Linked DNA regions of Homo sapiens. The protein of the gene in region 1 interacts with the protein of each later gene in a pairwise test. Each region holds a gene or a part of one and is shown in the gene's direction. Other genes may lie near its edges. The genes, in order: RBM10, DHX38, NIN, AKAP9, FAM124A, RBM12 and U2SURP.

Evidence for each region.
Region 2: the proteins of RBM10 (region 1) and DHX38 interact in a two-hybrid assay, tested with the Homo sapiens proteins (one large-scale study listed by BioGRID and IntAct).
Region 3: the proteins of RBM10 (region 1) and NIN interact in a two-hybrid assay, tested with the Homo sapiens proteins (one large-scale study listed by BioGRID).
Region 4: the proteins of RBM10 (region 1) and AKAP9 interact in a two-hybrid assay, tested with the Homo sapiens proteins (one large-scale study listed by BioGRID).
Region 5: the proteins of RBM10 (region 1) and FAM124A interact in a two-hybrid assay, tested with the Homo sapiens proteins (one large-scale study listed by BioGRID and IntAct).
Region 6: the proteins of RBM10 (region 1) and RBM12 interact in a two-hybrid assay, tested with the Homo sapiens proteins (one large-scale study listed by BioGRID).
Region 7: the proteins of RBM10 (region 1) and U2SURP interact in a two-hybrid assay, tested with the Homo sapiens proteins (one large-scale study listed by BioGRID and IntAct).

What each region holds. Positions count from the first base shown.
Region 1 is NC_000023.11:47,183,221-47,187,313, forward strand, and holds the end of RBM10 (RNA-binding protein 10), read left to right. Parts: intron 1-1,834; coding exon 1,835-1,984; intron 1,985-2,081; coding exon 2,082-2,147; intron 2,148-2,221; coding exon 2,222-2,410; intron 2,411-2,495; coding exon 2,496-2,570; intron 2,571-2,844; coding exon 2,845-2,951; intron 2,952-3,037; coding exon 3,038-3,167; intron 3,168-3,253; coding exon 3,254-3,379; 3' UTR 3,380-3,593; downstream 3,594-4,093. UniProt on the Homo sapiens protein: Binds to ssRNA containing the consensus sequence 5'-AGGUAA-3'. May be involved in post-transcriptional processing, most probably in mRNA splicing. Binds to RNA homopolymers, with a preference for poly(G) and poly(U) and little for poly(A).
Region 2 is NC_000016.10:72,107,347-72,110,846, forward strand, and holds part of DHX38 (pre-mRNA-splicing factor ATP-dependent RNA helicase PRP16), read left to right. Parts: coding exon 1-202; intron 203-298; coding exon 299-453; intron 454-880; coding exon 881-1,036; intron 1,037-1,126; coding exon 1,127-1,261; intron 1,262-1,453; coding exon 1,454-1,579; intron 1,580-2,068; coding exon 2,069-2,164; intron 2,165-3,500. UniProt on the Homo sapiens protein: Probable ATP-binding RNA helicase. Involved in pre-mRNA splicing as component of the spliceosome.
Region 3 is NC_000014.9:50,758,163-50,761,662, reverse strand, and holds part of NIN (ninein), read left to right. Parts: intron 1-1,303; coding exon 1,304-1,806; intron 1,807-3,032; coding exon 3,033-3,500. UniProt on the Homo sapiens protein: Centrosomal protein required in the positioning and anchorage of the microtubule minus-end in epithelial cells. May also act as a centrosome maturation factor.
Region 4 is NC_000007.14:92,076,862-92,080,361, forward strand, and holds part of AKAP9 (A-kinase anchor protein 9), read left to right. Parts: coding exon 1-146; intron 147-834; coding exon 835-1,014; intron 1,015-2,217; coding exon 2,218-3,291; intron 3,292-3,500. UniProt on the Homo sapiens protein: Scaffolding protein that assembles several protein kinases and phosphatases on the centrosome and Golgi apparatus. Required to maintain the integrity of the Golgi apparatus. Required for microtubule nucleation at the cis-side of the Golgi apparatus.
Region 5 is NC_000013.11:51,281,398-51,284,739, forward strand, and holds the end of FAM124A (protein FAM124A), read left to right. Parts: 3' UTR 1-2,842; downstream 2,843-3,342.
Region 6 is NC_000020.11:35,658,401-35,661,900, reverse strand, and holds part of RBM12 (RNA-binding protein 12), read left to right. Parts: intron 1-2,886; 5' UTR 2,887-2,971; intron 2,972-3,500.
Region 7 is NC_000003.12:143,008,070-143,011,569, forward strand, and holds part of U2SURP (U2 snRNP-associated SURP motif-containing protein), read left to right. Parts: intron 1-2,745; coding exon 2,746-2,790; intron 2,791-3,500.

The sequences.
Region 1 (4,093 bases):
ACTCAAAAGGTGGAGGGGGGCCGGGAGCCGTGGCTCATGCCTGTAATCCCAGCAGTTTGGGAGGCTGGGGTGGGCAGATCACCTGAGGTCAGGAGTTTGAGACCAGCCTGGCCAACATGGCGAAACCCCGTCTCTACTAAAAATACAAAAATTAGCCAGGCGTGGTGGCAGGCGCCTGTAATCCCGGCTACTCAGGAAGCTGAGGCAGGAGAATCACTTGAACCCAGGAGGCGGAGGTTGCAGTGAGCTGAGATCGTGCCATTGCACTCCAGCCTGGGCAACAAGAACGAGACTCCTTCTCAAAATATATATATATTATATATATATAAAGGTGGAGGAGATGGGAGGGGGTGAAGGATGAAAAATTACTTAATGGGTATGATGTACATTATTTGGCTGATGGATGCTCTAAGAACCCTGACTTCAGCACTATACAATCTGTGCATGTAACAAAAGCACTTGTTTATTTTATTTATTTATTTATTATTTTTTTGAGATGGAGTTTCGCTCTTATCATCCAGGCTGGAGTGCAGTGGTGCAATCTCGGATCACTGCAGCCTCCACCTCCTGGGTTCAAGCAATTCTCCTCCCTCAGCCTCCCGAGTAGCTGGGATTACAGGCATCCGCCACCATGCCCAGCTAATTTTTTTGTAATTTTAGTAGAGACGGGTTTTCGCCATGTTGGCCAGGCTGGTCTCAAACTCCTGACCTCAGGTGATGTGTCTGTCTCGGCCTCCCAAAGTGCTGGGATTATAGGCATGAGCTACCGCGCCTGGCTACAAAAGCACTTGTTACCCCATAAACTTATACAATTTCTTTAAAAAGCAGCCGCGATCTCTTGAGGAGGGCAGAGCCTTTGTGACCTAATCACCTCTGAAAGGCCCTGCCTGTCAACACTGTTGCATCAGGGATTAAATTTATCTTTTGAGATGGAGTTTCACTCTTGTTGCCTGGGCTGGAGTGCAATGGTGCAATCTCAGCACACTGCAGCCTCCGCCTCCCGGGTTCAAGGAATTCTCCTGCCTCAGCCTTCCAAGTAGCTGGGATTACAGGCATCCACCACCACGCCCAGCTAATTTTGTATTTTTTTAGTAGAGCTGGGGTTTCACTGTGTTAGCCAGGCTGGTCTCAAACTCCTGACCTCAAGTGATCCACCCGCCTTGGCCTCCCAAAGTGCTGGGATTACAGGTGTGAGCCACTGCACTCAGCCGGGATAAAGGCTCCACCTGTGAACACTGTTGCATTAGGGATTACATTTCTGACACATGAACTTTGAGGGACAAAAAACATAGCAGAGAACACAGCCAGAGAGGGGCTTGGCAAGAAGCACTGGTGACTGGTGACAGAAAATAGGAACTTGCACTACTGTGTCCCTCACCTTCTGATTGTTCTGCCTCAGCTTCCACTCATCTGCCTCCCAGATGGGCCCGCCACTCTGTCCACACTGCTTCTGCCACCTCACCATTGCAAACCAGTGGGGGTGGGGGCACAGGGTGTGTTCAGTGATGAGGTCAGGAGTAGCCAGGTGCCAAGTGCCTTGCAGGCTGTGGTTGCGAGTTTGGGTTTATTCTTGGTGTGATGGGAGGCGAAGGAAGGGTTTTAAGGACATTGTATTTGGGGGTGGGAGTGGCTTATACTTCATGAAAGAGCGCTCTGCTGGGAAAGGTGGTCAGGAGCCGTAGCCCAGAGGCCAGATGAAGCCTTCTGCAGTGGTTCGGACTAGGGATAGTGGCTGGCCCGTGTTTGAGGATGCAGGGCAGTGGGTCAGCAGATAGAGTTAGTAGCCCCAGGGTCATGAGGGTTCTGGGAACCTCACCTCCACCCTCACCCCCAGATTGCCAAGGACATGGAACGCTGGGCCCGCAGTCTCAACAAACAAAAAGAAAACTTCAAAAATAGCTTCCAGCCTATCAGCTCCCTGCGAGATGACGAGAGGCGGGAGTCAGCCACTGCAGATGCTGGCTATGCCATCCTCGAGAAGAAGGTGTGTTGGGGCCACCCCCCTGCACCCTGCCCCACAATCTTGTCCTTCCTTTGGGCCCTCTGTGGAGTCCCTGAATTTCTGTGTCCCTCCACCCCAGGGAGCACTAGCCGAGAGACAGCACACCAGCATGGATCTCCCGAAATTGGCCAGTGACGACCGCCCAGTGAGTGCCCAAGGCAGAGAGGGGCGGGGGCTCTGATCTGGCCAGGCCTGACCGCCCACCCTCACCCTCTACAGAGCCCTCCGCGAGGACTGGTGGCAGCCTACAGCGGGGAGAGTGACAGTGAGGAGGAGCAGGAGCGTGGGGGCCCTGAGCGGGAGGAGAAGCTCACCGACTGGCAGAAGCTGGCCTGTCTGCTCTGCCGACGCCAGTTCCCCAGCAAAGAGGCGCTCATCCGGCACCAGCAGCTCTCAGGGCTCCACAAGGTAACAGCGGATGGTTGGCAGGGCATGCTGGGGCCTGGCCCACTGAGGCTCATCCTCTTCACTTCTCATCCTGTCCCTCTTGCAGCAAAACCTTGAGATTCACCGGCGAGCCCACTTGTCAGAAAACGAGCTAGAAGCACTAGAGAAGAATGACATGGAGGTGAGGTGTGACCTGACCCTGGGCTCCCTCCCCTGTGTCCCTTCCAAGTCCCCATCACCTCAGGCAGCTGGAGTTCAATTTCTCACGTGTTAACCCCGTGAGCCTTCTTCCCCATTTTCCTATCCTGGCTGCTTGTGCCTGTGATGGCCTGACCCTCAGGACCTGAGCCTCATTAGCCAGATGGCATGCCCTGTGGGACCCCACTCCCCATGCCTGTGTTGCCTGAGAAAAGAGACCAGCTCCCCAACATTCACATACACATACAAACTTTCAGCAAATGAAGTACCGGGACCGTGCAGCTGAACGCAGAGAAAAGTATGGCATCCCCGAGCCGCCAGAGCCCAAGAGGAGGAAGTACGGCGGCATATCCACAGCCTCTGTGTGAGTGGCTGGGCCAGGTGAGGGGGTCTGGAGCCCGGGGCCGGGGCCGGCAGGCCGACCACTCATGCTGTGCACCGCCCCTGCAGAGACTTCGAGCAGCCTACTCGGGACGGGCTGGGCAGTGACAACATTGGCAGTCGGATGCTGCAGGCCATGGGCTGGAAAGAGGGCAGCGGCCTGGGCCGCAAGAAGCAGGGCATTGTAACGCCTATCGAGGTGAGTCTCAGGCAGTCCTGTCCCATCCCCCAGCACCCCTCACAGCATCCCCCACCAGCCTGACAGAGCCTGCCTCCCTCACACAGGCCCAAACACGGGTGCGGGGCTCCGGCCTGGGTGCACGGGGCAGCTCCTACGGGGTCACCTCAACCGAGTCCTACAAGGAGACACTGCACAAGACAATGGTGACCCGCTTCAACGAGGCCCAGTGAGCAGCTTCAAGAGCAACTTCTCCACATGTTGGGTGTCCATCCTGGGGCAGGGAAGGACAGAGTGTTGGATGGCTGGGACGGGGCCTTGCTCTTGTCGGCCAGCCCACTCCCCAGCCAGAGAGGGCTTGACCAAATCAAATTGAGGTGGTGACTTTTGTTGGAAAATTGGGCTGGGATCACGTCCTGTTTTGTAATAAAAGCTGAAAAGTCTGCATGTTGGCCTCTCCTCTTTCTCGTGCTCTAGCACAGTTGTATAGCCTATACAGACACGGGGACCCAAGCAGATGGACAGGGGACCTTATCAGGCCAAGGTGGATGGCAGTGGTGGCATTCAGTGTCTGGAACATAATGGCTACTAGAACATGGGGTTCTGACCTGTACCCCGACCCATAATATCCTGGTTATGGCCCCTCTCCCTTGTTGGTTCCAGCAGGTTATGTTGTACCAGGAAATCTAGCACCACCAGGCATGAAGCGCCCCCTGATCAGAGCTAGGACTGGGAACCCCCATCCCCTGTCCTTGCTGCCCCCTGGCTTTACTTAGCCTGCAGTCCCAAGGCTAAACTGCATTTTGCCATCCCTAGATCTGGAGACAATGCCCTCAGGCATCTCCAAGTAGAATACAAGAGGTACTCAGGTTCCAGTTGGCCCAGAGCCCTCAACAGGCTGATGACAGAGGGGTGGAGGTGGAGCTTGGCCTGCAAATCCAAGGCCA
Region 2 (3,500 bases), on another chromosome or scaffold:
ACCCAGAGCGCCTACAAGAATGAGCTCCTGACCACCACAGTGCCCGAGATCCAGAGGACTAACCTGGCCAACGTGGTGCTGCTGCTCAAGTCCCTCGGGGTGCAGGACCTGCTGCAGTTCCACTTCATGGACCCGCCCCCGGAGGACAACATGCTCAACTCTATGTATCAGCTCTGGATCCTCGGGGCCCTGGACAACACAGGTGAGGCGGCCCCGGGAGCCTCATGGGTGCTGGCGCTTGACTTCCTTCTTTCCTCTACTGTCCCGTCAAATATCCGGGTTTGCTCATCTCTCCTAGGTGGTCTGACCTCTACCGGGCGGCTGATGGTGGAGTTCCCGCTGGACCCTGCCCTGTCCAAGATGCTCATCGTGTCCTGTGACATGGGCTGCAGCTCCGAGATCCTGCTCATCGTTTCCATGCTCTCGGTCCCAGCCATCTTCTACAGGCCCAAGGTGGGGCAGCGGCTGGCTCCCCTCTCCCCGGAGGGCTCGAGGAAGTGTTGGGGAGGGGAATGGCTTCTCTCTGTATTACTGAAATGGAACAGAGGGCAGAATCAGAGTTTCTGAAGAATGATTTTGCTGTTCTCGGTTAAGCAGGTTGGGGTAGGGGAAAGGAAGGGCTGGGCCAGTGGTTCTCAGGGAATGCTTTGGAAATTTGCAAGAGCATTTTTTATCTTCTAGTATGGTTGCTCTTGAGCCCTCATGTTTTAGAGTAGACCTTTTTAAAAATTATTTTAATTTTTCTCAAATTGTCAGGGCAACCTATTGACATGTTTGAAGTTCTATGTGTGGGTAGGTGGTAGTGTTAGAACCTCTGGGATGTGCTCAGTGGGCCTGGACCCCCCTGTACTTAGAGTGAAGGTTCTTTTTCCCTTCCTAGGGTCGAGAGGAGGAGAGTGATCAAATCCGGGAGAAGTTCGCTGTTCCTGAGAGCGATCATTTGACCTACCTGAATGTTTACCTGCAGTGGAAGAACAATAATTACTCCACCATCTGGTGTAACGATCATTTCATCCATGCTAAGGCCATGCGGAAGGTAGAGTGGTGGATGAGCAGGATGTTGGGATGAGGGGAGGGTCGAGAGGAAAGGAGGGCTCCCTCCTGGTGCCTCCGTCTCCTGCCCTAGGTCCGGGAGGTGCGAGCTCAACTCAAGGACATCATGGTGCAGCAGCGGATGAGCCTGGCCTCGTGTGGCACTGACTGGGACATCGTCAGGAAGTGCATCTGTGCTGCCTATTTCCACCAAGCAGCCAAGCTCAAGGTGAACCCAGGAGCCCAGTGAGCCCCTCCCAGCCTGATACCTGTATAAGGGCAAAGTTCTTCCTTTGTCCTGGTGTGGTTCTGCAGATCTGGGCTTCCGCCAAAGGCTGTGTCAAGAGTGTTAAGGGATGGGGTCGCTGCCCAAATGGGTGTTGTTTTCCTGATGTGGCTGCCTGTTGTGTCTCCTCCCTAGGGAATCGGGGAGTACGTGAACATCCGCACAGGGATGCCCTGCCACTTGCACCCCACCAGCTCCCTTTTTGGAATGGGCTACACCCCAGATTACATAGTGTATCACGAGTTGGTCATGACCACCAAGGTGAGTCTTTTCCAAGGCACTTGCATAATGCAGGCCCCCTGTCTGGCCAGGCTTTGAAACCCTTCACTGCGTTCTGGCATGAGCTTTTAGCCTGGGAGCCTTGAGGCCACATGCATTGTTTTGCGGGGCATGTGAGGTTGGTTTTCATTTGGGGACTTGGGGAAGCTCTGCACAGGGTTGACCTCTAGACTGCATTGACCTCAGCTGCATGGGCACGATTGTTCCCCACTTGCTGCTTGGGATGAGCAACCCCTCTTGGTGTCATTAGAAGGATTTTCGGAGGGGTTGGGCCTTTTCTTTTAGATACTGGGGGCATTTTCTCAAGTGTGGAGGAGTTTGGATGGGAGTATCTGGGGTTTTTCCTTTCCTTTTTTCAGCCTTGCAGGGCCAGGGATTGGGCCCTTCCCATGTGGCTCCTAATTGTGGAACCACTCTGGGAGGGACATTGGCCCTCCTGTGACCCTCGCCTCCCTGCCCTTCTGCCCGCAGGAGTATATGCAGTGTGTGACCGCTGTGGACGGGGAGTGGCTGGCGGAGCTGGGCCCCATGTTCTATAGCGTGAAACAGGCGGGCAAGTCACGGCAGGTGAGGATTCTGTGCTCTTCGCAGGGGTGCTGTTTGCCTGTGGGGTCGGTGTTCCCTCCGCTTGGTATTGAAGACTTGCGGTCATCCAACCCACTTACTTCTCTCTGCAAACATAAAGGCTGTGATCCAGCAGGCTGGGTCTGTCTGATTCCCCACCACCCACTCCAGTTGTTTGGTAGGCTGAGCCTTTAAAAACAAAACCAAAAAACTCATTATTGAAAAGTCCAAATATTCATGAAAGTGGGAAAAACAGTACAACAGGCCACCATGAATTCGTTGCCTTGCCTCTATAATTGTCAACGTTTGTTCAATTTCACTATTCCTACCCCACTCCACACACATCCATTTTTTTTTTCTGGAATATTTTAAAGCTTATCTCATACATTATTCATCCATAAATACTTGAGTATGTGTCTCTGACTAAAAGGACTTAAAATTTTAAATATAACCTCTGTGCCGTTATCACTCATAAAAAAATGAATACTTAATGTCACCTAAGTCTCCAGTCCGCATTTGGATTTCTCCATTTATCTCAAAGATAACTTCTTATGATCGATTTGCTTGAATTAGGATCCAGGCATTGCAACTGCTTATGTGTGTTAACTGTTTCATTCTAGAACAGGCTCCACCCCACGCTTTTTTTCATGACATTGATTTATTGGAGCAGCCAGGTCATTTGTCCTGTCGAATAGTCCATATGATGTATTTGCCTCATTGCTTGCTCACAGCGGTGTTTAACCTGTGCCTGTGTTTCGTGCACTTGCTGTAAGCTGGCGATGAGTCCAACCGCTCAATTAGATCCCGGCTGAGCTGCGTGTGGCAGAGATGCCTGCATGTGGCACTGTGAACCTCCTCTTAGATGCCTTCAGGAGGCATGTGAGGTCTGGTGGCCCCACCTTTGCTGATGGGAGGATGGATGAGGGGCCCCAGTGGTGGCAGCCTGCCTCTTCCCTGATAGGTTTCCACTGCTCCTCCATCTTGAGGTTTTAGCGTCTGTTGATGGCCATTGCCTAGATCCATATTTAGGGTTGCAAAATGGTGCTGGGCTTTGGCTTACCCCTTTTCGTAGCATAATTCTCCCCATACCAGGCTCCCTTGCATCTTATGCCTGTCTCTTCCAGCCAGCAGGTAATCACATCTTCCCTGTTTTTCTGTACTTCCTAGCATAGTTGTGAACTTGATTTTTCAAAAAAGAAGGAAATGTAAGTACTTCCTGGACTGAGGGATGACTGAGTTAGGACTGATTGTCCAGTGTCTTGAGTCAGTGAAAAAAGCAGGCCTCAGCTGCAGAAGAGAAGGCGGCTTTGGTACTGGGGCAGGCAGCCATGTGGAGCAC
Region 3 (3,500 bases), on another chromosome or scaffold:
GATGGTTTTGTAGGCTGACAGCAAGGCCCCTTTTTTCTGGAGAGTTTCTCCAAAATGTAATATCTTCAGCCCTGGCAATCATGGAACTTGAAGCTTGAAACCCATTATATTATCTCCCAATTTCTTTTTTAAAAACATCTCAGTGAAACCAAAAAAAGCCCTTTGATGTTTCATTGCCTACTAAATTAGGTACAAGTTCTGAACCTTGGCCTCTAAACTCTTCACCATGAGACTTCAACTGACGTTTCCAGTCCAGACTTCAACTGACCGTTCTTATGAGTTACCTTATCCTCCAGCTAAATTGGGTAGTTCCTAGTTGTCCATCACACTCTGTCCTCTTTTGCTTGTGCTGTTACAAACTATGCTGATATTAGTTTCTTTCTGCCTCTCGAAAGTCTACTTACCCTTCAGGATTTATATTTAATGCTGCCTCTTGCATGAAGCCATTCTTGAATTTCTCCAACTAAAATGTGATTTTTTTCCCTCCTTTGAGTCCCTGGGTTACATTGTAGCTCTTTTTTGTATACCTTTTATTTTCTGCCTCCTACTGTACTTATAGTTGTCATATCCATGTCTAGACTGGTTTCTCCTGGATAGCAGGGACCATATCTTACCCAGCGTTGTATTCCGAGGCCTGCAAGTACCTGATAGGTGTTCAATTAATATTTGAATTTAATTAAGTATTTTAAGACCCAGCAGGGTACAGTGGCTCATGCCTGTAATCTCAACATTTTGGGAGGTCGAGGTGGGCAGACCACTTGAGCCTAGGAGTTCAAGACCAGTCTGGGCAACATGGTGAGACCCCGTCTCTACCAAGAAAAAAAAATTAGGGCACGGTGGTGTGTGCCTTTAGTCCCAACTACTCAGGAGGCTGAGGTGGGAGGATTGCTTGAGCCCAGGAGATGGAGATTTCAGTGAGCCATAATTACGCCACTGCACTTCAGCTTGGGTGACAGAGTGAGAACCTGTCTCAAAAAATATATATGTTCCAAGACTCAAGTTTACAGTTGGAAAGGATGCATGGGAAGACAGAGGGTAGCTATGTGTAATGGCTGCTCAGTTCTTAATAAGGTTGTTCAGACACTAATAAAATTCAGCCACTTAAAAGAGATATGTAAACCATGCCTGACTTAAGTATCTTGCTTAAAGTGTTGAATTCAGTTACTTTAAAACAAGATAGAGAAATGAGAAATGTCTTGTAGGGAAAAAAAAAAAAAAAAAAAAAGCAATTGCTGCTCCATCACTTCACTTTCAGTGACCTTGAGCTGAGTAATCTTGTGGTGGTGTCACTCTGTGCCTTCAGGTGCGCCATTATGAAAAGCAGCTGGACGAAACCGTGGTCAGCTGCAAGAAGGCACAGGAGAACATGAAGCAAAGGCATGAGAACGAAACGCACACCTTAGAAAAACAAATAAGTGACCTTAAAAATGAAATTGCTGAACTTCAGGGGCAAGCAGCAGTGCTCAAGGAGGCACATCATGAGGCCACTTGCAGGCATGAGGAGGAGAAAAAACAACTGCAAGTGAAGCTTGAGGAGGAAAAGACTCACCTGCAGGAGAAGCTGAGGCTGCAACATGAGATGGAGCTCAAGGCTAGACTGACACAGGCTCAAGCAAGCTTTGAGCGGGAGAGGGAAGGCCTTCAGAGTAGCGCCTGGACAGAAGAGAAGGTGAGAGGCTTGACTCAGGAACTAGAGCAGTTTCACCAGGAGCAGCTGACAAGCCTGGTGGAGAAACACACTCTTGAGAAAGAGGAGTTAAGAAAAGAGCTCTTGGAAAAGCACCAAAGGGAGCTTCAGGAGGGAAGGTAAGAAAGTGAAGGGAAATGAAGCTACCTGGGGCACCATCCCTCGGGGCATTAGAAGTGCCAGTTGTGGCTGGGCGCGGTGGCTCACGCCTGTAATCCCAGCACTCTGGGAGGCCGAGGTGGGCGGATCACGAGGTCAGGAGATCGAGACCTGGCTAACATGGTGAAACCCCGTCTCTACTAAAAATACAAAAAATTAGCCGGGCGTGGTGGCGGGCGCCTGTAGTCCCAGCTACTCTGGAGGCTGAGGCAGGAGAATGGCGTGAACCCGGGAGGCGGAGCTTGCAGTGAGCCGAGATCGCGCTACTGCACTCCAGCCTGGGCGACAGAGCGAGACTCCGTCTCAAAAAAAAAAAAAAAGTGCCAGTCGCTTAAGAGACTTGAAGAAGTCAGAAGGCATAATAGCCCATTGATTGAGTAGACTCTTTTAAATATTTTTTTACTGTTTTTGCCATTATTTTGATGTGAACCTACCTTGGGATGATTGGAACTGTTTTTATTTTGTTATGTTTGTAAAAGAGGAAAGTATTCCTCGTATTAAGATTTATTCTACCTTATAAGGCTCAAGAGGAGGATAAGATTATCCCAAAAGTGGTTCCTTCCTAGTTCAATCCTGTTGCTTTCTGAGAAAAGCTATTAATAAACTGGATTCCAGGCAAGGTTACATTTCCTCCCAGAGTTAAGAAACAGCACTCCATGCTTACATTCCTCATGTGAAATCCCAGGTTTATTTGAGGGCTTTGTTTCGTCACACGCTGATTGACTTGGTGCTACTTCGTTAAGTAAGAAGCAAAAGCAGAATGAATTTGTTCATATGTGTCATTTATGTGACTGATATCCTATAACGCATGCTTAATTAAAATGAAGGAATGGTATATATTTCCCAAGTGAGGAATTAGATTAATATACATTTGGTCATTTGTCTTTGGTTTAAAAATCCATAAACAAATACATCCGGGAGTGTGCCAGAGAAATTAGTTTCTAAGATTTCCCCCTAACTCCAGAGAGAGGTAAGTCTTTTAAATGAATTATGGCTGCCAGTCTTAGCTTTCAGAAATGAGATCCCTTTCCAGTATAAATGAATCACATAGGAGTAAGTTAAGAGCATTTTTAGGGAGTATTTCAGTTGTTTGCTCAGCAGCTTTCTCAGTGCATGGGAAAATGGTTTTTGTTTGCTTCTGGAGTTGGCGGCAGTTTCAATAATGCTGTATGTTGACTATATTTAGGGAAAAAATGGAAACAGAGTGTAATAGAAGAACCTCTCAAATAGAAGCCCAGTTTCAGTCTGATTGTCAGAAAGTCACTGAGAGGTGTGAAAGCGCTCTGCAAAGCCTGGAGGGGCGCTACCGCCAAGAGCTGAAGGACCTCCAGGAACAGCAGCGTGAGGAGAAATCCCAGTGGGAATTTGAGAAGGACGAGCTCACCCAGGAGTGTGCGGAAGCCCAGGAGCTGCTGAAAGAGACTCTTAAGAGAGAGAAAACAACTTCTCTGGTCCTGACCCAGGAGAGAGAGATGCTGGAGAAAACATACAAAGAACATTTGAACAGCATGGTCGTCGAGAGACAGCAGCTACTCCAAGACCTGGAAGACCTAAGAAATGTATCTGAAACCCAGCAAAGCCTGCTGTCTGACCAGATACTTGAGCTGAAGAGCAGTCACAAAAGGGAACTGAGGGAGCGTGAGGAGGTCCTGTG
Region 4 (3,500 bases), on another chromosome or scaffold:
ACTTAGAAGAGCAATTAGAACAGTTTAGAGAAGAACTGGAAAATAAGAATGAAGAAGTTCAACAATTACATATGCAATTAGAAATACAGAAAAAGGAATCTACTACCCGCCTACAAGAACTTGAACAGGAAAACAAATTATTTAAGGTAATTAGTTAAGAAAAACTTTTATCTGTAAATAAGTCATAGTTTCAGTCCTATATTGCTTTATTATTATTATTATTATTATTTCTTTCTTTTTTTTTTTTTTTTTGAGACTTAGTCTCACTCTGTTGCCCAGGCTGGAGTGCAATGGTGTGATCTCGGCTCATTGCAAGCTCCGCCTCCCTGGTTCAAGCAATTCTGCCTCAGCCTCCCGAGTAGCTGGGACTATAGGCACGTACCACCACGCCTGGCTAATTTTTGTATTTTTAGTAGAGATGGGGTTTCACCGTGTTAGCCAGGATGCTCTCGATCTCCTGACCTCGTGATCCGCCTGTCTTGGCCTCCCAAAGTGCTGGGATTACAGGCGTGAGCCACCACACCTGGCCCCTATATTGCTTTATTAAGCATTCGATAAATCCAGCTGTTAAATAATACTCAACAGAGGAACATTAACAGGCAGACACATTTGCATACAGCTTATTTTCAGCCCAACCTGAACATTTGAATTCATCATAAATGAAAATTTTGGGATCATTTATCAAAATATTTTAGAATTATTGATTTACAGTAACCATATGGTGTCTCTGATTTTATTCATTTGTACGTTATAGGCTCTGATTTCTTTTGTAATTATGTTCTGAAAATGATAGGTAATGATATATCCAACTGTGATAATTATTTTTGTTCCTAGGATGACATGGAGAAACTGGGACTTGCCATAAAGGAATCTGATGCCATGTCTACTCAAGACCAACATGTGCTATTTGGGAAATTTGCTCAAATAATACAGGAAAAAGAGGTAGAAATTGACCAATTAAATGAACAAGTTACGAAACTCCAGCAGCAACTTAAAATTACAACAGATAACAAGGTATACTCATTTAAAATTGATTATGAAATTAATATGAACCAGAGTTTTAAAGGGCAAAATGGTTATAATGTTGCTCCCCATTGAATTTAAAAAACAAACCAATTTTATTTTATTTTATTTTATTTTATTTATTTTTTTTGAGACAGAATCTCGCTCTGTCGCCCAGGCTGGAGTCCAATGGTGCAACCTCGGCTCACTGCAACCTCCACCTCCTAGGTTCAAGTGATTCTCCTGCCTCAGCCTCCCGAGTAGCTGGGATTACAGGCACCCACCATCACACCTGGCTAATTTTTTGTATTTTTAATAGAGATGGGGTTTCACCATGTTGACCAGGCTGGTCTCTATCTCCTGATGTCAGGTGATCCACCCACCTCAGCCTCCCAAAGTGCTGGTATTACTGGCATGAGCCACCACGCCTGGCCCAATTCTCTTTTATTAATTTTAATTTATTAAGACACATTGGTGGCCAGGCACAGAGGCTCACACCTGTAATCCTTATACTTTAGGAAGCCTAGGTGGGCGGATTGCTTGGGCCCAGGAGTTCAAGACCAGCCTGGGCAACATGGTGAAACTTTGTCTCTACAAAAAATATAAAAATTAACTGGACATGGTGGCATACCACCTGTAGTCCCAGCTGCAGTGAGCCTCATCATGCCACTGCACTCCAGCTTGGGTGACAGAGTGAGACCCTGTCTCAAAAAGAAAAAAAAAAAAAAGCAAAGACACATTGGTTTAATAATTTATATGTATTTTTCTCCCCTCCTAATATTGTCATAGGATTCTAATGTTTTTCAGAAAGGCTCTGTGACTTAGATTTTATCATGTTATTCTAACCAAATCTATTATAAATTATAATATTTAATATGAGTTAAGTAAGGTAATTACCTTTGGTGCCATCGGTTGTAGACTTTATTTCCGTACTTCATCCTTTTCCATTAAGAAGTATTGATATTGACTATTTTCCTAATAGGGAATCAGCAACTAAAAGCTTATATTACTTTATACTTAACAGAACTTTCTGAGCCTTGTTTGATATGATGGGGGAGATATTGGTCTATAATGAAATTAAGTAGTATGTCTGAGAAGTAGTGTATTATTTTTGTGTGTGATCATCTCTTTGAGGTACTGCCCTAAAATAAAGTAAAATTTTCAAAATGTAAATACATATATATTATGTATGTTACCTTTTTCATTAATTATTAGGTTATTGAAGAAAAAAATGAACTGATAAGGGATCTTGAAACCCAAATAGAATGTTTGATGAGTGATCAAGAATGTGTGAAGAGAAATAGAGAAGAAGAAATAGAGCAGCTCAATGAAGTGATTGAAAAACTTCAACAGGAATTGGCAAATATTGGACAGAAGACATCAATGAATGCTCATTCCCTCTCAGAAGAAGCAGACAGTTTAAAACATCAATTGGATGTGGTTATAGCTGAAAAGCTGGCCTTGGAACAGCAAGTAGAAACCGCTAATGAAGAAATGACCTTCATGAAAAATGTACTTAAAGAAACCAATTTTAAAATGAATCAGCTAACACAGGAATTATTCAGCTTAAAGAGAGAACGTGAAAGTGTGGAAAAGATTCAAAGCATACCAGAGAATAGTGTTAACGTGGCTATAGATCATCTGAGCAAAGACAAACCTGAACTAGAAGTAGTCCTTACAGAGGATGCTCTTAAATCCCTAGAAAATCAGACATACTTCAAATCTTTTGAAGAAAATGGCAAAGGTTCCATAATTAATTTGGAAACAAGGTTGCTACAACTTGAGAGCACTGTTAGTGCAAAGGACTTAGAACTTACCCAGTGTTATAAACAAATAAAAGACATGCAAGAACAAGGCCAGTTTGAAACAGAAATGCTTCAAAAGAAGATTGTAAACCTACAGAAAATAGTTGAAGAAAAAGTGGCTGCTGCTCTTGTCAGTCAAATCCAACTTGAGGCAGTTCAGGAATATGCAAAATTCTGTCAAGATAATCAAACAATTTCATCAGAACCTGAAAGAACAAATATTCAGAATTTAAATCAACTAAGAGAAGATGAGTTGGGGTCAGATATATCAGCATTAACCTTGAGAATATCAGAATTAGAAAGCCAGGTTGTTGAAATGCATACTAGTTTGATTTTAGAAAAAGAACAAGTAGAAATTGCAGAAAAAAATGTTTTAGAAAAAGAAAAGAAGCTGCTAGAACTACAGAAGCTATTGGAGGGCAATGAGAAAAAACAGAGAGAGAAAGAAAAGAAAAGAAGCCCTCAAGATGTTGAAGTTCTCAAGGTTAGTTTTGTATTTTATTAGTTTCATTTAAATACCCCAAGAAACTAAGCTGATTGCTAATTTACTAAATATGGTGTTCTGTTTACATCTAACAATTTATACAAGAAGGTTTTTATAAAAATATACCACTTATAAAAAATAAACTCTTGTTAAAAGAAAAACTAGGACAGGCGCGGTGGCCCACGCCTGTAATCCCAGCACTTTGGGAG
Region 5 (3,342 bases), on another chromosome or scaffold:
TTAGCTGGGGGGTGGTATATCTCTAGAGACACAGCAGAAAAATACTGGCATTTTTATGCAAATAAATTCTCAACAAACTTGTCATAAAATATATTTTTTGAATATTCAGCATTTGAGGTATGGTTTAGTGGGTTTATACAATTTAAATGGCTTATATAATTATTTGAAATGAAAAGAAAACCTAGTCAGCCAGAACCAATTTGGCAATTTTTCCATGGTATGAAGGCAAATCAATTAAGGCCAAAACGTTGAATGTGGGAGAGATAGTAAGTGACTTGTATGAGGGATTACTGCATAATAACGTAACGCACACCTTACTGGATTCTCCATATATATTTACATTACCAGAGAACAGTGGCCCTAGGGATGTTTAAGCACTGCTTATAATGGAAAAAGTCAGCTTGAGAAGTAAACGTATATCAGACTACAGGTAATTCCTCATCTTGAAGCCATGCAACACCTGCAAATCTGGATTTATACAAAAGTTGCTAATGTGTTTCATAAAGATTTAGCATGAGTAACAGACTCTTGGTGCATTTAAAATATGTGAGTTCCAGAAAGTAGATTTGCATACACCTTTTCAACAGCACATTTCACTGGAATGGATGAGGGGCTTCTGAAGACCACTCCACTACCTGAATTTATTTGGATCACTGAGGAAGAGCATTTGTTGGGATTACAGAATTATAGGCCATTAGACATCATGGGTAGGTAGTCTTAAGATCCTTCAACTTTCAAAAACCACAGTCTAAGGACTATATTCAAATGACAAGAGCCGCACTGTATACTGCTTTCTGCAGTGACCATGCTGGGTCACGCATCCTATGTTTCTCATTTTTAAATGATTTGGAACATTTTAGCCAGCATTTTGATCACACAGATTAATAATGCTGTTCTCCCCAAAACGGGAAACTTTACCTGAAACGCTCTCCTGAACAAACACCAGTGCACTGCCAGCCTCACATGATTGCATGGGAGCTTTAATTAACGCTGGAGCCCAGCAACCTTGGCTTTTCCTGCCTGTTATCTGCTACTGTCACACCGTGAATGGTATTTGAATCTCACCTCCCTCTCACCTCAGTAAGAGTATGTTTGTTTACAGCCCCAACCTCAGCAATGCCAAAGGCTGGCATCGGGGGCAGTGCCAAGCTGTCCCTGGATACTATTTACCTTTGAGGAAGAACAGCATGGGTTTGCCAAGCTCAATTCCCAGGCTGGTGCTCCTTGAATTAATCATGGCACAGTGTTCATCTCTCTGGAAATGCCCACGCCAGCCCAGACACAGCCTCAGAGTCCTTTCCAACACGACCCTCCAGGCAGCAGTTACCAACCATCAGTCTTCAGCTGAAGCTTCAAGTCTTTGCCATCCTTGTAATGACAGCCTTAGGCCTTGCCCCAAGCATTCTGGACTCTCTAACACTCAGAATTGTAATGTAATATTCTGCTCTAATTTAAATTTTTAAAAATATAGTCTCCTAATTCAGGATAAGGAGTAAGCAAACTTTCTGAAAAGGGCTAGATAATAAGTATTTTAGGCTTTGCCAGTCATATGGTCTCTTGCAGCTACTCAACTCTGCCACTGTAGTATGAAAGCAGCCATGAGTAATATGTTAATGAATGGGAATGGCTGAGTTCCAATAAAGCTTTATTTTTTTTTTATTTGAGACGGGGTCTTGCTCTGTTGCCCAGGCTGGAGTGCAATGGCGCAATCTCAGCTCACTGCAAGCTCTGCCTCCTGGGTTCAAGCCATTCTCCTGCCTCAGCCTCCCAAGTAGCTGCGACTACAGGTGCGCACCACAATGCCTGGCTAATTTTTTGTATTTTTAGTAGAGACAGAGTTTCACCATGTTGGCCAGGTTGGTCTCAAACTCCTGACTTCGTGATCCACCCACCTTGGCCTCCCAAAGCACTGGGATTACAGGCATGAGCCACCATTCCCAGCCAATAAAACTTTATTTACAAGAACAGCTGGTGGGCCAGATTTGGCCCAAGGGTCATAGTTTATTATCCCTTGAGCTAGGCTGCTGCCTGAGGTTGATTCAACATCCCAGCTCCAGTCAACAACAAAAATTCTAAGTCTCCCGCCTAATGCTGCTGTGGTGTGTCATGCCAAAAAAGTGGGCTACTCAGGTTAGACCAATGACTTCAGAACCACAGGGCTCAGAACAGGAAGGAGCTTCTTTCTGCAGAGCTGATTCCTGGAAAGCCACCAGCACTCCACCTTCTGCCCAGAAATGTGATTCAGTCAATAGCTGATGAGGAAAAGCAACCTGCAAACATTAGGAAGAAGGAGAAAAATAATTCAGAGGTGATGATACCACCTCCAATGAACAGGGAAGCAAGTTCATCAGTAACAAAAGTCAGTGAGGCAAAAAAAAAAAAAAAAAAAAAAAAAAAAGGCTAATGGCCGAGGGCTGGCTCCTTCTTTCTCCCTAATCAGTGTCCTTATTTCAGTGTGCTCACATGCTCGCCTAGGACTGCTTTAGAGTACAACTCTGGACCCGCCCTCATCACAGTCCAATCTACCAAACTGAGTGACCCTAAAGGACATCATAGACAACATTTGAAAGCAAGAAATGCAAAATGTTCCCATAGCATCAGGTGAGCAGGGAGAGGATGCCCACTGTAGACCACATGGAAATGGCAGTCCCTCCACGGAGAGGGAATCACAGGAACACATTTACCAAAGCCTTCCCTTCCATTCCTGGCCATTCCAGTAGCATCTTCCTCATCCAGAAGGGCTTCCAATACTCTCTGGAGGATCCTGACTCGTTTGGAGTATTATCCTTGTAAAAGATGCTGGCACATTGTAGGTGCTCAATAAATGTGTTCAATTGAAAAATATTGAGGTTGTCTCATAAATTATATCTATGTATTAGGCTCTGTAGTGTAAGAAGTCTAGATTGTAGCCCTGGTTTTTTGTCGCTTAATGGAACCGTGTCTCTTGTTTCCTTGGCCTTACGCTTCCTCCAGCATTGCCAGGGAGGGGATGTGTTGGTAAGTGCTCTGGTTGAGTTACATCCCATCCCTCATTTGCCTCTTTTCCAAGTAAGATCCCCTCAACCCCAAATTACTGCTCACGGTCCCACTTTGGCCTACACTAAACACCACCTAGTGTCTGCTTTAAAGAGCAAATCTTTCTCTGTCTGTCCCCAACTCACCTGGCAAGTCCTACAGAAATCATCTTGGGTCACCTCAACTGGTTAAAAGGAGCATAAGAGGAACTGGTGGAAGCAGTGGGTGAGCCACTGCAGAGACTTTTGTGACATGGGAGGGTTGATGTGTGCTTGAATAAATTGGGTTTTAGTAGTGGCTGCTCCTTGAGCCTCCGGGTCTGAGGGC
Region 6 (3,500 bases), on another chromosome or scaffold:
CTTTTGGATCTGAAGAACCTAGCTCTGCTGTACCCTGGTTCTTGTTGATTAAAGAGTGATAACTGAACAAAGTTAAAGTTCACTTTTGGATGTTTACTACCAGATGAAGAGTGAAAATAGTCGTTTTAGTTTGTGCCTTGACTTCTTGATGAAGAGATTTGTTGTCAGACATTTTTTTCTGAAATTCCAAGTGATTAGAATGGCTAGTAAATACGAAAGTCTGTCTTGCCATAATATGTTAAATTTTTGTAGCAGATACTTGTGATTTGTGCATGCATCCGGTATTTTGTCAAGTTGAAGCAAGCCTTTATGTTAGGACTAATTCCTGATAATATGAATGGAAAACATACTAAAGCCAGCTTCTTGTTTTAGATCTTCTGAAGTATATCAGTGGCTTTAATGACAAATCAGGCCCATTTTCTCCTTTCCTATCATTATGCTGTATGTATAGATAGAATATGTATTTTAGATGTTTTATTGTTTAGTTATTATTTTAGTCTTATCCTTCTAAAGTTCAGCAAAGCTTTAGGTAAATGGCGTGGATTTTTGAAATCCTGCATTCAGTCGCTAGCTGACATTTAGAATACAGGAATAGTAGTTTCCTGGAAAACAGTGACACTTATGTTAAATTCTTGTGGTTTTTACAAAGTGAGGTGTCAACACAGAAGTATTTCAGTTCTATTTCCATTTACCTTTCCCTTTTGAAGAGGTATAATACCAAGGGTTGTGAAGTTCTGACTTGTAGCATCAACTTTCTGCATGGTTTTCCTTGGTATGGGGTGGGGTGGGTATTCCTCTTTGCTGAAATAGAAGAGAATCATAAATTTCTATCTGGATTGATTTTGTGCTTTAAGTTGTACACATAAAACTTGAACTAGGCATTTGTCAAATTCAGCTGGGCCTTTCAGCCTTGCCTTGTGGAATGAGAAATATCTTCCTTTTAAAGGTAATTTCTGGTAACCTTTTAGAAATTTTTGAGAGTAGACCTGGTGAGTTCCCTTTGAGCTTAACTGGCTGACCCCAGATATGTCCTTCTCAAGATAGACATACGGTATCTTTTGAGTTTGCAAGGGAAGAGGCTGAGAGGAACCTTCTTACCTTATATTCAGGCATATGCCCTGGCCCCATACCTGACCTTTTGAATTGGAATCTCCAGTAGGGATCAGATGTTTATTACAAGTTCTAGAAACTAGAAAGTTACCCTGTTATGTGGCTGCTGGAGTCAAACCTGTACATAAATATTACAGTACTTCATGCTCTTGCTCATTGCTTTACTTGAAGCAGGTTTTTTTCTGTTTCACATTTTCCTTTGTGACCTGTTAAACTACTAGATATGGCTTTCAAATGAAGAATTTTTAAACTCCTTAGACTTAGTTAGGCTAGGCCAGGCGTGGTGGCTCACACCTGTAATCTCAGCACTTTGGGAGGCTGAGGCGGGTGGATCACTTGAGGTGAGGAGTTAAGAGACCAGCCTGGGTAACATAATGAAACCCCTGTCTCTACTAAAAATACAAAAATAAGCTGCGGGTGGTGGCGCAAGCCTGTAGTCAGTCCCAGCTACTCCAGAGGCTGAGGCATGAGAATAGCTTGAACCCAGGGAGGCGGAGGTTGCAATGAGCCTAATGAGCCTAGATCGCGCCACTGCACTCTAGCCTGGGCGACAGAGCGATACCCTGTCTCAAAAAAAGAAAAAAAAAAGAGGCTAGATTTCTACAACATGTAAAAGATTAATACAATGCTCTAGACTTTTGATTGTGTTGATTACATATTTGCATAGCTTTTTGTGGTAAAACCATCTCACTATTCTTTAGCAACTTGAGTAGTTGACTAGACGATGAATAGTTTGTCCTTTAGAAAATCACACAGATTTTTGAAATATGTTTTACTTTTTGGCGATGAATATTAAGGTCATTAGTTGTATTTTGGTCTTGGAAGATACTAATTTAAGATGAGCATCATTTGGAAAAGTAGTCGTAGGTAATCTTAATACTGAACAGTGGCAAATTTCTTCTCTCTCCGAATTAAAACATGACCTTTGAAAAAAAATAAAAAGCAAAAAATGACCTTTGAATATAGTTGTCTAGACATTTGGTCATATATGCTTGTGACTTGTTAATAACCTCACCAGTTTGGAAGAAATGACAGTGAAAGATGAGTGACCTGTTTTTATTTTGGGATATACTCTTAATATGTCAGGCATTTTTAGGGTGTTTTTAAATTTTATTTTATTTTATTTATTTAAATTTTACAAGTTTTTGAGAACTGTTGTGATGTCAGAGGAAAAAACACTTTCCCTTAATATTTTGTTAATATTTTGAGCTCCAGTGGAATTAGTCCTTATAGCAAGAACTCATACTTCATTTGTTTTGTGATGTTGGATGCTATTTTGTGCAAAATAAAATATATTGAAAGAATAATTGCAGTAATTTCCATGAGTACCCTTGAATTGCTATCTTAAGTTGTCCAAGAATTGTTATTGTGCGAACTTGTGCCTTTTCATCACAAATTTGGTGAGAACCTGGGGAAATAGACTTGTGTTACGGAGTTTTCTGGACTGGTTTAATTATAAAGTGATCAAAGCAATTAGCTGTGAAGCTGAGCTTTATGACTGTTTTAATTTTCAGTGGATTCGTTATTGGGCTAAGTTAATGACACTCTTGTAAATATATAATTATTTTGAGATACTCAAATTTGAAAGCAATACCAACTAAAAAGCATGTGTGGGATTTTGTTACGGTGTCTTTCTTTTTTTTTTTTTTTTTGATATGCATTCTAATGAAGTACTCTGGTGGTTTCAGACTCGCCTTCGTAATGTACAGTGTGGCCTGTGCGTGTTGTTTTGTGTTTCCTGCATTGATTTTTGCCTCCGTTTATTCTCTATTGCAGTCTAAAAGTTGGTTTTAATTGGTTGCCCACAGGATTGACTTGGCCTCTACTTCTTGTTAAGGAAATTCATCTCTTGTTTTATCAGGTAAGAGATTTTGAATAGAGAGTTCGTTTTTATACAAAATAAAATGAGATAGCTTATTAAGAAATATGAAAATATATGTAGCAACTATATTGTGTGTGTGTGTGTGTGTGTGTGTGTGTGTGTGTGTTTTTGTTTGCTTGTTTTTTGTTTTGAGACGGAGTCTTGCTCAGTTGCCCAGGCTAGACTCTGTTGCCCAGGCTGGAGTGCAGTGGTGCCATCTCGGCTCACTGCAACCTCCGCCTCCCGGGTTCAAGCACTTCTCTGCCTCAGCCTCCCGAATAGCTGGGATTACAGGCGCCTGCCACCATACCCGGCTAATTTTTTTGTATTTTTAGTAGAGATGGGGTTTTATCCTCTTGGCCAGGCTGGTCTTGAACTCCTGACCTTGTGATCCACCTGCCTTAGCCTCCCAAAGTGCTGGGATTACAGGCATGAGCCGCCACCCAGGCCGGTGTGGTTTTTTACAAGTTTATCTGAGGGATAGGGGTGGGGTAGATGGGTGCTTTGAACAGTTGTTCCTTTGGGGGTC
Region 7 (3,500 bases), on another chromosome or scaffold:
CCTACACCGGTGCATTGTGCTACACTATGCTGTTACTGCTCTGTTTGCAAATTTATCAAATTGTGTAATTTTGAAAGCTGACAAAATTGTTACTTTTGAACTGATTATTTTTGTATTAGAGATTATTTAATTTGGTGAATGGTTACGCAAGTGAGATCCTTGAAGATTATAGAGCTTCATCTTTTGATGACTTGGAGTCAGGGAAGAGTTAACTATATGGAAATAGGCAGAATGCCTAGGTTCTTGTATCTTTTGTTTTTAAATCCTAGAAATGATGATTTGGATGTGGTGGCATCAAAGACTACAGAAAGGGTAGCGCTTTCTTAGTTATTCTTTTGGATGCTTATTCTTTCTGGGTGAACTTTAGAATTGTTTTGGCAATTCTTTTGCCCCCTTGCAAATATTTCCCTTTGGAATTTAGAGCGGTTGAATGAAATTGTATTAAATATGTAAAGAAATTTAGGTGTCATTGACATTATCTTAATATTGAATTTTCCCATCCAGTAATATGAATCTTTTGAAAAGGTGGCTTGAGTAACTGGATTTTTCTCGAAGTTTTTGTTTTCTTCACAAGGGTTATATACATTTCTTAAATTGGTTTCTAGATGTTTTTATATTTTTTGTTGCTTTTATGATTAGGATGTTTTTGTTGCTTAGCAAGTTAATACTGGTGTATTGGAAGGCAATTGAGTTTTTTTTGTTACTATTGTTTGTTTTTGATATGGAGTCTCTGTCGCCTAGGCGGTAGTGCAGTGGCGCGATCTCAGCTCACTGCAAGCTCTGCCTCCCGGGTTCACACCATTCTCCTGCCTCAGCGAGTAGCTGGGACTACAGGCGCCTGGCTAATTTTTGTATTTTTAGTAGAGATGGGGTTTCACCAGGTTTGGCCAGGATGGTCTCCATCTCTTGATCCACCCGCCTCGGCCTCCCAAAGTGCTCGGATTACAGGCGTGAGCCACTGCACCTGGCCCAGGCAGTTGATTTTTTTCAGTCCCTTCAGCCTCTTGCCTGAACTTGTTTTTCTTTTGTAAGAGTAGTTATTTATTCTTTTGGATTTTTAAATTTCTAGATATTTGTAAATTTATGCATTTCAAGATATGTTTCAGGGTGTGTTTCATAGTTAATAAATACTAAAAATTTTCTTTTATACCACCTTGACATTTAAGAAAGATTAGCCGCTAGAAGAAAATCAGGGTGGACACAAAAGTTGGGGACAGAAAAACCATGGACAGAAAGAGTGAGATGGGGCCGGGTGCGGTCGCTCATGTCTGTAATCCTAGCACTTTCAGAGGCTGAGGTGGACAGATCACCTGAGGTCAGGAGTTCGAGACCAGCCTGGCCAACGTGGTAAAACTCCGTCTCTACTAAAAATACAAAAATTAGCCAGGCATGGTGGTGCGTGCCTGTACTCCTAGCTACCCAGGAGGCTGAGGGAGGAGAATTACTGGAACCCGGGAGGCGGAGGCTGCAGTGAGCCGAGGTCGCGCCACTGTACTCCAGCCTGGGAGACAGAGTAAGACTCTGTCTCAAGAAAAAAAAAAAATGAAAGAAAGAATGAGATGGGAGGGGTCCCAGTGCTTGGTTGTCCTGTTGTCCTGGGCTGATTTTTGCCTATGCTAATGCGCAATACAGTGGAGTTCAGAGGAGTAAATTGATTCAGTGTAAAAATCTTACCAGCTGTTCTTAGCCTTATGTCTGGACAATGTAAATAAAACAATACTGTATGGATCTTTGCTCTTTTTTAAATAACATGAATCTTCAGTTTTTCTCTTAAACTAATATTTTATCTTGTACTTTATATGACATCTTGTCTGGGAGTTGGGGTCAGGTGAGATATTTGTGATCTCAATATTCTTGATTTCATTTGAACATTTGACACTTAAATATATAAATAAAAACAAGTAAAATTTCACTACCGTATACCCTCAAAAATAAAAACAGCTCAGTGACAGTTATATTTTGGATCCCCAAGTAAAAATTCTTGGAGAATCTTTCTTTCAGAAAGATAGCATACATTATTTAGTTAATCGTCCTACAGCTTGTCATCTTTGTCTTTACATGTGTAGTGGCAACAAGTTATTGCATACCATGTATAATCTGATAGGTAGATCACTTAAGAAAAGTTGAAGTTTTAACAGTTGACATCACTGGAAGATATTATATGAACTCTTTCTCATGCCACCAGGCAGCCTGTGACATGCTATCGAATCATCTCCCTTAAAACGAGTTGTAAATGGTGCCTTATTGGGGATTTGATAATATTTTCTGGAACTTTGCAGAATTTGTACCTTTTAATAGACAGCAAGGATTTATATGTGGATTTCTTTATGTGGCTTTGGGTGATTAGAGAAAGAGAGTTCTCGTGCTGTGGACCAAGAAGTTGCTGGGCAGTGCTGTGGCAGTAAACGATGCATCTATGATTAGGAAGAGCTTTTGCATAAAACTGTGTAAAAATGGTGGTTAGGTTTCCAGTGTATACTATAAAGAGGTAATTTTGCCTCATATATATCCCACTAGTGTTTATTATATTTTTGGAAATATGCAGGCTGAATTTTAAAGAAATGACTTACACATTTACTTTGTATCACAATCTTTTCATAAGTCAGAGACTGCCTTTGCTCAGTTTTATTAGCTGAGGAGAAATTGCCAGAAGTTAGGAAACTCTTAAGTTTGTATAACACGAGAGACATGTTTTGTTAGTATAAGACATTTTAAATTATTGACTTTTATTTTTGATACTTGTAGACGAGATCATCAGATGTTCATTCATCTGGATCTTCAGATGCACATGTGAGTATAGAAGGCAATCTTTGTCTTTTTTCCTTTAAAATTTAACTTCTCCTCATATGTATCCCTACATCAATGATTTTACTTGACAAATAAATACAATTGTATGTGCTTTTTTCTTTTACTCTTTTTTTTCTAGGCGCCTTCCTTTTTTTTTTTTATGTTCTGCTTGCATAACTTAGCCCTCTGAAGCGATGTTAGAAACCTAGTATGTATATTTCCTTATGATTTTTATTGTGTAAAAATCTGTACATACATAACGTATCTATACTTATACTTTGACTATGGGATTGCATTATGCATATGCCTTTCTCACCGCACAAAACATATGTTGGAAATCCCTGCAGGTAAACTGTTAACAGCTCTAATCTGTTCTTTCTTAAGGCATCATAATGTTCTGTGGTGGGGAAGTGCAGTTGTTTGTTATTTCTTTGTTGATGGGCATATATTTTTTGTTTAAAGCTTTCAAGTAACATTTTGGATAGATAATACTACAATAAGTATTTTTTTAATATATGTTATTACAGCAGTGTTCAAAGTGTAGTCTGAAGACCCCTGGAGTCACTGAGAATCTCTGAGAAGGGTCTGTGAATTCAAAACTATTTTGTAATAATACTAAGGCATTATTTATGCCTTTTTCACCATTTTGGCATTTGCACTAATGCAAGTGTAGCTGGAGGTACAAAAGCATTTGGTGGGTAAACTGTTGGCAC